Homo sapiens: one gene and its partners. The protein of the gene in region 2 purifies or fractionates together with the protein of the main gene of each other region. This does not show direct contact. Each region holds a gene or a part of one and is shown on either strand. Other genes may lie near its edges.

Region 1 (3,659 bases), on a different chromosome or scaffold from region 2:
TCTAAATTTTATAGATTAGATAGTAGATATGTTTCATTTTATACAAACTCTTGACTTAAAAAGTCTAGTGGCAGATTTTTTAGTATTTTGTTTTCTCAACTAAACCAATTCCTCTACTTTTCAACAAGGATTAGTAAAAACACAAAGTCAACCAATAAAATCTAACTGCCCCTTTCCCCAGTAATTGGTGGTTTCAACTTAAGAGGAAAGTAATTGAGCATTGTTTACAGCGTGTTTGAAATGGGGGATATGAGGCTGGGCGCGGTGGCTCACGCCTGTAATCCCAGCACTTTGGGAGGCTGAGGCGGGCGGATCCCGAGGTCAGGAGATTGAGACTGTCCTGGCTAACACGGTGAAACCCTGTCTCTACTAAAAATACAAAAAATTAGCCGCGTGTGGTTGCAGGCGCCTGTAGTCCCAGCTACTTGGGAGGCTGAGGCAGGAGAATGGCGTGAACCCGGAAGGCAGAGCTTGCAGTGAGCCGAGATCGCGCCACTGCACTTCAGCCTGGGCAACAGAGCGAGACTCCATCTCAAAAAAAAAAAAGAAAAGAAATGGGGGTATGAATTCATTTTTATACTCTAAATAATGCCCTAGCACTTGGGTAGTTTTGCTGCTCCAGCTTATCAATATCTCTAAGATATCATTTTATATTGCCTTACATTTTCCTAGCTATTACATCATCACTATAGCTTTCTTTCAAAATATATTTCTTTTTCTTTTTTGAGATGGAGTCTCACTCTGTTGCCCAGGCTGGAGTGCAGTGGCACAATCCTGGCTCACCTCTGCCTCCGCCTCCCGGGTTCAAGCAATTACCTGCCTCAGCCTCCCCAGTATAGCTGGGACTAGAGGCACCTGCCACCACACCCCGCTAATTTTTGTATTTTTAGTAGAGACGGGCTTTCACCATCTTGGCCAGGCTGCTCTTGAACTGACCTCGTGGTCCACCTGCCTCAGCCTCCCAAAGTGCTGGGATTATAGGTGTGAGCCACCGTACCCGGCATCAAAATATATTTCTATTATAAAATCAGTGACTACAGTAAGATTCTAAGAATGGACCTAACAAAAGTAATGCATACTCATTACAGAAAAACTAAATGTCAAAAAATATATAAATCACCCATAATCCCACCTACACAGATAATTCTTAATATCTTGAACTCAATTTTCAGTTCTTTTAGGACAGAATTTCTTTTACTATTACCAGTATACTACTGTGGTTACAATACGCAACTACTGAGGTGAATATGAAAACAGGGAGATGAAAATTACTTACACAATATATGGATTCTTAAATTTTTAACTTTTAAAATTTAAGTTCAGTTAAAATAACGTGGGTTTAACTTAGATATAGTTGATACCTTAAATCCTGTACAGAATTAGCACTTTTTCTTTTTTCTGAGACAGGGTCTCGCTCTATCACCCAGGCTGGAGTGCAGTGGTGAGATCTCGGCTCAATGCAACCTGCGCCTCCCAGGCTCAAGCGATAATCCTCCTGCCTCACCCTCTTGAGTAGCTAGGACTATAGGCGCGTGCCACCATGCCGGCTAGTTTTTTAATTTTTTGTAGAGATGGGGTTTCACCCTGTTACCCAGGCTGGTCTTAACCCCTGGGCTCAAGCGATCTGCCCCGCCTCAGCCTCCCAAAGTGCTGGGATTACAGGCATGAGCCACCGCGCCTGGCCAGCACATATTTTTAAAACAACTAAATACAGCCAGGCATGGTGGCTCACGCCTGTAATCCTGGCACTTTGGGAGGTCGAGGAAGGCAGATCACGATGTCAGGAGTTTGAGACCAGGCCGGCCAATATGTTGAAACCCCGTCTTTACTAAAAATACAAAAAAAATTAGCTGGGCGTGGTGGCACGCGCCTGTAGTCCTAGCTACTTGGGAGGCTGAGGCAGAAGAATCGCTTAAACCCGGCAGGTGAAGGTCGCAGTGAGCCAAGATCACGCCACTGCACTCCAGCCTGGGTGACAGAGGGAGACTCCGTCTCAAAACAAACAAACAAGCAAAAAAAACCTAAATACTTGCCTGGTGCTCCTGGAAAAATTTTTCCTAAAAAAAAAAATCAGCTGGGCATGGTGGCTAATGCCTGTAATCCCAGCACTTTAGGAGGTCAAGACGGGCGGATCACCTGAGGTTGGGAGTTCGAGACCAGCCTGACCAACATGGAGAAACCCCATCTCTACTAAAAATACAAAATTAGCCAGGCTTGGCGGCACATGCCTGTAATCCCAACTACTCAGGAGGCTGAGGCAGGAGAATTGCTTGAACCCCGGAGGCAGAGGTTGCAGTGAGCCGAGACTGCGCCATTGCACTCTAGCCTGGGCAACAAGAGTGAAACTCTGTCTCAAAAAAATAAAAATAAAAATAAAAATCACTAAAGCTTTAAGATGCCATCATGGAAAAAAATAATATACAATTAATATTAAAATAATACCATGTAAGTGGTTAATCCTTAAACCTGGTCTTCTGTATTTCAAATCTTCCTATCACTGTTTTTTCTTTATTTATCAATTTCATGATTATATTACGGTAAATTGCAACTCCATCTATTAAAAGCACTGAGTGCCTGGCAGGAAACAACTCTGGGTAACTACAGTACAGAGTATGCCAATGGACACCGAGGGCAGAAATTCCTCATTATCTACCCCATTATCTCTCCCAACACCAATCCCAGATTTTTTATTGGGGGGTGGGAGGAGTTCTATTTTAGCCTACACATATCATGATCCTTTTACCTCTCCAAGAAATCTCCTGACTCCAACTATTCCCCCTCCTCCACTTCACAGGCACTATCAGTACTCAAATCTCCTAGACTAACAATGACTTCTTTTAAAGGGAAATACATGTGAAAAGTCAAAGAAAATAACTGTAGCCAATGAATGTCAAAGTCATTTTCTAGGTTCCTCACAAACCTTAGGATTTCCTAAAGCCAAATGCTTCTCATTAAGGAACTTAAGCTAGCTCTTCCTCTGTTAAGTACTTCTAAATACATGCCCATACAGACTGTATTCTCCCAAAAGAAAAGGAATCTCTACCTGTGCATAGTTAATTGTTTGGCCTCCAAAGACATGTTTATTAATCTCAAGTAGGTAGAGACTCTGAAAACTTTTCTTAGAATTTTCTAGTGTCATCTAGGCAATCACTTTTTATGAGGGTCCAGTGCAAAAAATAATCAAAAACTTTCCTTATCTGTACATAACAAGACAATGTAATACGAAACCACAACACTAATGTTTTAGCAAATTACACACTTATATTAAGATTGAAAACGGCTACATACTTTTTTTTTTGAGACGGAATCTTGCTCTGTCACCCAGGCTGGAGTGCAGTGATGCCATCTCGGCTCACTGCAACCTCTGCCTCCTGGGTTCAAGCAATTCTCCTGCCTCAGCCTCCTGAGTAGTTGGGACTGCAGGTATGCGCCACCACATCTGGCTAATTTTTATATTTTTAGTAGAGACGGGGTTTCACCATGTTGGCCAAACTGGTCTCGAACTCCTGACCTCAGGTGATCCACCCGCCTCGGCCTCCCAAAGTGCTGGGATTACAAGCGTGAGCCACCATGCCAGGCCATGAAAACAGCCATATACTTTTTTAATGGAAGGATTAAAAATTACTCTTTAGGTTCTATGATGCATAATTATTAAATTT
Region 2 (3,659 bases):
TAGTTTCACACACAGCTACATAAATAAACAGGCCCTTTTATTTAGAGAAAGTTATTATTATTAACACTCCTATCACTGTCACAACAAAGATTTCATCACTCTTTCCATGAATAAGTAGATGATTTTTGTCTTTTTCCTTAGCCATTAAAATTTCTATAGAGCTAACTATTGGCAGAGGTTTAAATGCTCTTGGCAATGATATAAAGTGGGGCCAAACTCATGAAGTCAGGGTAGTTTGCTTTTTCTTTCTGAGCAGAAAGGATCTATAATTTGGTTTTCTTTTTGCTTATATTTGTTTATTTTCTGATAGTTGAGTGCTCAGTTAGTTATGAAAATAATAAATATTTTCTAATATCTCACGCTATAATTATATATTATTAATATTAGATGAATATTGAATTTATATCACTTTTTCAATAAAAATATAAAAGACATATTACAAATTCCTGCTGTTCAATTATGATCTACCATTAGTTGCAAAAAAAAGTAAAAAAGAGCATCCACATGGTAAATATTCCCCAAACCAGACTGAATTAACTTAGAATGTTTTATTAGAATCACACAAGATATTTTTTTCTTTTTCATAATTTCTTCTTACCCCCCTCACAATCACACTGATAAATATGTTGATACTACCATACACAGTGCAGCAAGGACTGTGATACCAGTGCCAACACTTTTGAACTAAAAAGAAAATGACTGGTGTTCAAGTGTTCTGCGTTCAGCATTCAATGTTACACCAACTTCTTAAAATTTTTTCTTATAAAGAGTTTTATTATAATAAACTTTTATTTTTACAACAGAGATTTTATAATGTACTTAATTGCATAGTGCACTATAGCTGGAGTCTATTTTCTTACATTAATAAACAAATTTATTTATAATTTTATTTATAATTTTAAATTAAGTTTATAAATGTAGGTTGTGGTCATTTTCTGGATGGTGGCAGCAGCAGCAAGCCCTACTTTTCCAGTTGGAAAATGCGTAAGCTTTCTGAGAAGAGCATGAGACTATTTTTTTAAAAAATCAGAATATTTACAATGGAGATTAGAATAATAAGTAGTAAACCAAGTATCATTGTGACTTAAGAGTTCATGTAGCCAATCAAAATGAATTAGCTTTGAAACCAAACTCTACACTTGAACTTTGGGTACTTGAGATTATTTAATCACCCCTGGCCTCAGTCTTCTTACTTAAATAATGAGACCAGTTATGAGTTTTATAGAAGTAATGATTCTAATAATAAAAGCCTCAAATTTAGCAATAATTTAGAATGTAGCACCTCATTTCTACCACAATCCATGCTTTGGGATAAATTGGGAAAAGACGACCTCTCCTGGTGAGAGATGGCAGAAAGGTCCCTCTTATAGACTGTTCAACTAGAAAAAGTTGATTTTGCCTCTAGGTAGCTTGAGCTACAGGCACTGGGCTTGCCAAGCTGAGCTCCTTCTCCTGTCTCTTTGGCTTGTACCTCGACACAGTGCACAATCTGCATAACTGTGTTTGAACCTTTTTAATATTCCTAGCAATCCTATGACATAGGTGCTCTTATCTGTTTTCAAAATGAGGCAAAGAGGGCAGTTCACACAGCTCACAAGTGCTGAAGCTGGGTTGTGAAACCAGGCCATCTGGCTCTACACTCCATGCTTTTACCAGGTTTCTATGCTGTCTCCATATGTCTCAAACCTAATATAAAGGTGAAATATTTCATGAACAAAAGGGATTGATGAACACAAACACTGTGCATGTTATCTATGTCAGAATCATAAGCATTAATCTGTTATTGATTATTGGGTGGCTAATATAAGCAAGGCTTGTGCATTGAGAGCTTGTTTCTAAACAGAATTAGATTTTCTGTTACAAATATTTAAATAAGAATTAATGTTGCCTCTGTCTCAGATTTTCAAACCATATATGCCTTTAATAAATTTTTATCTAGTCTTTTTATTTTCCAAATAAAACAAACTAGATCCAAATTGAATGCATTCCACATTACAAAGAGTATAACTTTAGCCAAGTTGTCATCCTGTGTTATATCATGAGGAATATGTTAAAATAGTAAAAGAAACACTCTCATCCTAGAGTCGCACACATCCATCTACTTGTATATGAATTCCTGACACAGAAAGTTGTTGTAAATAGTAAAAATTGTTTGTGAGTGCATCTTCTGAATTTTAACCTTGGACTCCTTTATATATATATATATTATTATATATGTATTTTATTATATATATATTATTATATATATATATTTTATTATATATATATTATATATAGTAAATTATATATAATATATATAATATTATATATATTAATATTATGTATAATATATATTATATATAAATACATATATGTATAATATATATTTACATATATGTATATATTACATATATATGTATACATAATATATATGTATACATATATATGTATTATACATATATATGTATTATATTATAGGTACAATACATATATATACACATATACAATGTATATATACATACATATACAATATACATACATATATAATATACATACATATATACACACATATACATATATACACACATATATTATATATAACATATATACATATATATTATACATATATATTATATACATATATATGTATATATTATATACATATATATGTATATAATATATACATATATGTATTATACATATATATGTATATAATATATACATATATGTATTATATATATTATATATGTATTATACATATATTTTATATATATATATAAAATACATTACCTTTTATAAAGGTAATGTAACAGATACTGCCATCTTTGGGAAAGAGTTATAAAACAAAACCATAAAATGATGACAAACAGCAGTTGAAGAATAATGGCTATGATAAATGGTTAGTTCATTAAATGACTGGTAATAAGATTAATTTGTTCCTTTCATGCCCGAGAGATACTTAAAGTAATTGCATCTCTGAAAACTGCACTGTCATCATTTTATGCTTTTGATGATGTCATAGATTAGTTCCATAGGCTGAGAAAGGCTCAGCAGTTTTTCTTGTATCTCCCTTGGTATATATTATATCATATTGTATTAATGTATGTGCTACTGTTCACCACCCATGAATTTGCAATATTCTATGGTATCCACAGGATAAGAAGAGAGGCCTCTAAATCACCCAGTCTCCTAAATAAAACATGTGCCAGTTTTAATAAAGTTAAACTGATATATATTAAAGTGTCCTGGAGAAATCTGGAAGCACCATGAAATATTCCTAATGTCATTTTGCAGCAAAAATAGGTTGGGGATCACTGCTATGCACACTAGAAAGAAAAAAGGAAAAAAAAAAAAGAAACACATTACTTCAAAACACTTCAAATGTTTAAAAGTATCACTTGCTCTTCAAACATATCCTCCCAACTTAGAGACCTGAATTTGGAATCCTTCATATTTATCCTTATGCCTACAAGTAAAATCCTTTTACCTTTGTCCTAAAGAAGACATCACTACTCACCAGTCACTTCACAAAATTAAATGATTGCAGCTCCCATAGATATTCTCTACACATCTGTGTGTAGTAAGAAATCAGTACAGGTCTAAGCTCCTAAAGGTAGTTTCCAAATTAGCATCATAAATTCAATAAATAGGCTTTGATTACTATCATCATATCACATCTT
Region 3 (3,659 bases), on a different chromosome or scaffold from region 2:
CCAAAAAGAGACATGCACTTCTATGTTTAATGCAGCACTATTCACAATAATAAAGACATAGAATCAACCTAGGTGCCCATCAATGGTGGATTGGATAAAGAAAATGTGGTACATATACACCATGGAATACTATGCAGCCATTAAAAAAAGACCAAAATCATGTCCTTTGCAGCAACATGGAATCAGCTGGAGGCCATTATCCTAAGCAAACTAACGCAGACCAGAAAACCAAATACCACACGTTCTCACTTATAAGTGGTAGCTAAACAATGGGTACTCAGCCGGGCGCGGTGGCTCACGCCTGTAATCCCAGCACTTTGGGAGGCCGAGGTGGGCGGATCACGAGGTCAGGAGATCAAGACCATCCTGGCTAACATGTTGAAACCCAGTCTCTACTAAAAATACAAAAAAAATTAGCCAGGCGTGGTGGCGGGCACCTGTAGTCCCAGCTACTCGGGAGGCTGAGACAGGAGAATGGCATGAACCCGAGAGGCAGAGCTTGCAGTGAGCCGAGATCACACCACTGCACTCCAGCCTGGGCGACAGAGCGAGATTCCGTCTCAAAAAAAAAAAAAATGGGTACTCATAGACATAAAGATGGCAACAATAGATACTGCGGACTACTGGGTGGGGAGGGAGTGGGGCAAGGGTTGAAAAACTATTGTGCACTCTGCTCTGTACCTGATTGCCAGGATCAATTGTACCCCAACCTCAGCATCATGCAATATAGCCAGGTAACAAACCTGCAAATGTACCCTCTGAATCAAAAATAAATGTTGAAATTATTTTTCAAAAAGTACCTAGAATAGGTAAATTCATAGAGACAGAAAGTAGAATGAGGTTACCAGGGGGTGAGAGAAGGCAGAATGAGAAGCTATTATTTAATGGGTACAGAGTTTCAGTTTGGGATGATGAAAAAAATCTGGAAATGCATAACAGTGATGATTGTACAACACTGAGAATGCACTCAATGCCACTGACTTGTACCTTTAAAAATGGTTAAAATGGGGCCGGACACAGTGGCTCACGCCTGTAATCCCAGCACTTTGGGAGGCCAAGGCGGGTGGATCATTTGAGGTCAGGAGCTTGACACCAGCCTGGCCAACATGGTGAAACCCCGTCTCCACTAAAAATACAAAAATTAGCCAGGGGTGGCGTGTGCCTGTAATCTTAGCTACTCAGGGGGCTGAGGCAGGAGAATTGCTTGAGCCTGGGAGGCGGAGGCTGCAGTGAGCAGAGATCACACCATTGCACTGCATCCTGGGTGACAGAGTGAGACTTCGTCTCAAAAAAAAAGGTTAAAATAGTCAATATTATATTATGCATATTTTACCACAATTTTTTTTAACAGGCTGCTGCCCAAAAGGGAAGTGATTAGGAACTGAATGGAGATAGAGAGGGCAGGACCAACTTAAGAAATTTTAAGAACTAGACAACAAATTTGGTGACTGAATGTGGAGGTGAGGAAAAAGTAGCTCTTAGGTGTCTGGGTAGATAGGAGTGGCATTATAAGTTTCCTCTTATAGGTAAGGAAACAAAGTCCCCAGAGCACAAAGTAATTTGTCCAAAGTCACAGTTTGTTAATAGCAGAAAGAACTGAGATGCCAGACATCTGATTGGAATTCAGTATTCTTTCCACAACATAATATATCTGAAAAGAATATTATATTTGTGTAGTATTCTTTAATTTATGAAGTTTTTGCATACATTATTCCACTTGATACTGATAAAAACCTATGAATTAGACGAGGCAGTTATTATCATTTTCTTGATGAGTATACTTAAATAGAATAAGAAAATTTATGCAACACCTTGAAATCCTTAGACAAAGATGTAATTTTTATCTGTTGGATTAAAGGGGAGCCTTCAAGTGGGAGGCAAAGAGAGTCAAATGATAAACGTGTTGGGACTATCACGGCTGCTGGATGTAGTAGGTATTGAAGGGAATACAGGACTAGAAATAGAAGTGGTTTGGGTAGTTTCCAGGGCTGCCACATTGTGTAATTCCATGTCATAATTTTTACAGACTGTGGCTGCTGCCCACTAGATTTGTACAATGCAACAGCCATGGATGAAATAAGGTAGGAGTCTCAAACCTGCAAATCGGGATCTACTGGTAGATCTAGACACCTCACCTCCTATAAAGCTCCATGCTGGCTCCCCATAATGTCTTCTCTCTGCTACATGTCTCAGCTAAGATTCCCATTGGGAAAGGAAGAACAGCACAGCCAGCAACTACTTCTCAGGAACTATACTGTCAGTATCTGCCCTGATCTCATGACTCTGAGATTAAAAGAAGCTCCTCCTTATAACAAGGTTGGACATCACCATAATAAAAGATTGGGAGGAGACAAAGGTAGTCTGGTATGATCATTTCTACTTTTCTGGTGGAAAAAATTTCTTAAAAGCACCTGAATAAGCAGCTATGCATGATGGCTCATGCCTGTGTACTCCTAGCACTTTGGGGAGGCTGAGGCAGGAGAATCACTTGAACCCAGGAGTTCAAGACCAGCCTGGGCAACAAAGTAAGATCCCGTCTCTACAAAAAAAAAATTTTAAAAATTAGCCAGGCATGGTGGCACATGCCTGTGGTCCTATCTACTTGGAATGCTGAAGTAGGAGGATTGCTTGAGCCCAGGAGGTTGAGGCTGCAGTGAGCTGTGATCGTGCCACTGCACTCCAGCCTAGGCAATAAAGCCAGACCCTGTCTCAAAAAAAAAAAAAAAAAAGTGCCTGAACAATACTGTCAAATGTTCTTAGAGCATTATTATACTTACATTAAATCCAAAGGTAACAAGAAAAAATACAGGTCATAACAGGTATTCATTTGACAATCCATTCATGCTTTAAGCCATGTTAAGAGAGTACTAACACAGGTTACAAACAATACTTACTACATAAGCTTCTGACCAAGTTGAGTTTAGGTAAAATAGAAAACTGGGACACAAGTGGTCTAGCCAGATGCTTCAAATATAGAAGACAATCTAAAACTGACCAGATGCTTCAAATGTAGAACATAACCTAAGCCAACCATTGGTAGCTCTCAGATGCCCACGTCAAGTAGCTGCAGTTTAGTTTCTCTTTCTCATATTTAGACAAGGAAAACACACTACCATTAAACGCAACTAGAAACAAAAGACAGGCAAATGTATTGTTTTGCTTGAAGACATTTCTGATGACATTCTACCAACTATCACAGAATGTATTTATTTCTCTTTCCTTTACTAACCTCCTTTTATTTCTCCCAACCTTTCCTTGGACTTCCTACTGGCACTTCATGTGTACATTGCTTAACTGATACAAGGGTTACTGACCCCAACCACTCTGTAAATATCAGTTTGTTGCCTATAGAGTTGTGTCACTGAGAAAACTTACTATAAAATTCTAAACTTAAACAAATTAGAGTAGAGATGAGATCAAACCAAGGCAGTATGACCCCAAAGCCCCAAACCCTCTCCAGAACAGTGTATCCAAAGGACTTTTAGACAGACTTAAATAGTTCTTCAAAGCATTCAAAAGATGGTCTGCATCTATCACTTGCAGTGCTCCTCCCCAACATAAAATCTCTACTACAATCAAGCAAGTCCCTTCACTGATTGCCATATAGTCCATGCTCTTATCATTTATTTCTATGACTTTGTTTAGAACTGGTCCCCTCA

Evidence for each region.
Region 1: the proteins of CHODL (region 2) and HELLS purify together in Homo sapiens (affinity purification with mass spectrometry; one large-scale study listed by BioGRID and IntAct). This does not show direct contact.
Region 3: the proteins of CHODL (region 2) and ATP7A purify together in Homo sapiens (affinity purification with mass spectrometry; one large-scale study listed by BioGRID and IntAct). This does not show direct contact.

Annotation. Positions count from the first base shown.
Region 1 is NC_000010.11:94,548,633-94,552,291, reverse strand, and holds part of HELLS (lymphoid-specific helicase), read right to left. Parts: intron 1-3,659. UniProt on the Homo sapiens protein: Plays an essential role in normal development and survival. Involved in regulation of the expansion or survival of lymphoid cells. Required for de novo or maintenance DNA methylation. May control silencing of the imprinted CDKN1C gene through DNA methylation.
Region 2 is NC_000021.9:18,247,684-18,251,342, reverse strand, and holds part of CHODL (chondrolectin isoform a precursor), read right to left. Parts: intron 1-3,659. UniProt on the Homo sapiens protein: May play a role in the development of the nervous system such as in neurite outgrowth and elongation. May be involved in motor axon growth and guidance.
Region 3 is NC_000023.11:77,917,137-77,920,795, reverse strand, and holds part of ATP7A (copper-transporting ATPase 1), read right to left. Parts: intron 1-3,659. UniProt on the Homo sapiens protein: ATP-driven copper (Cu(+)) ion pump that plays an important role in intracellular copper ion homeostasis.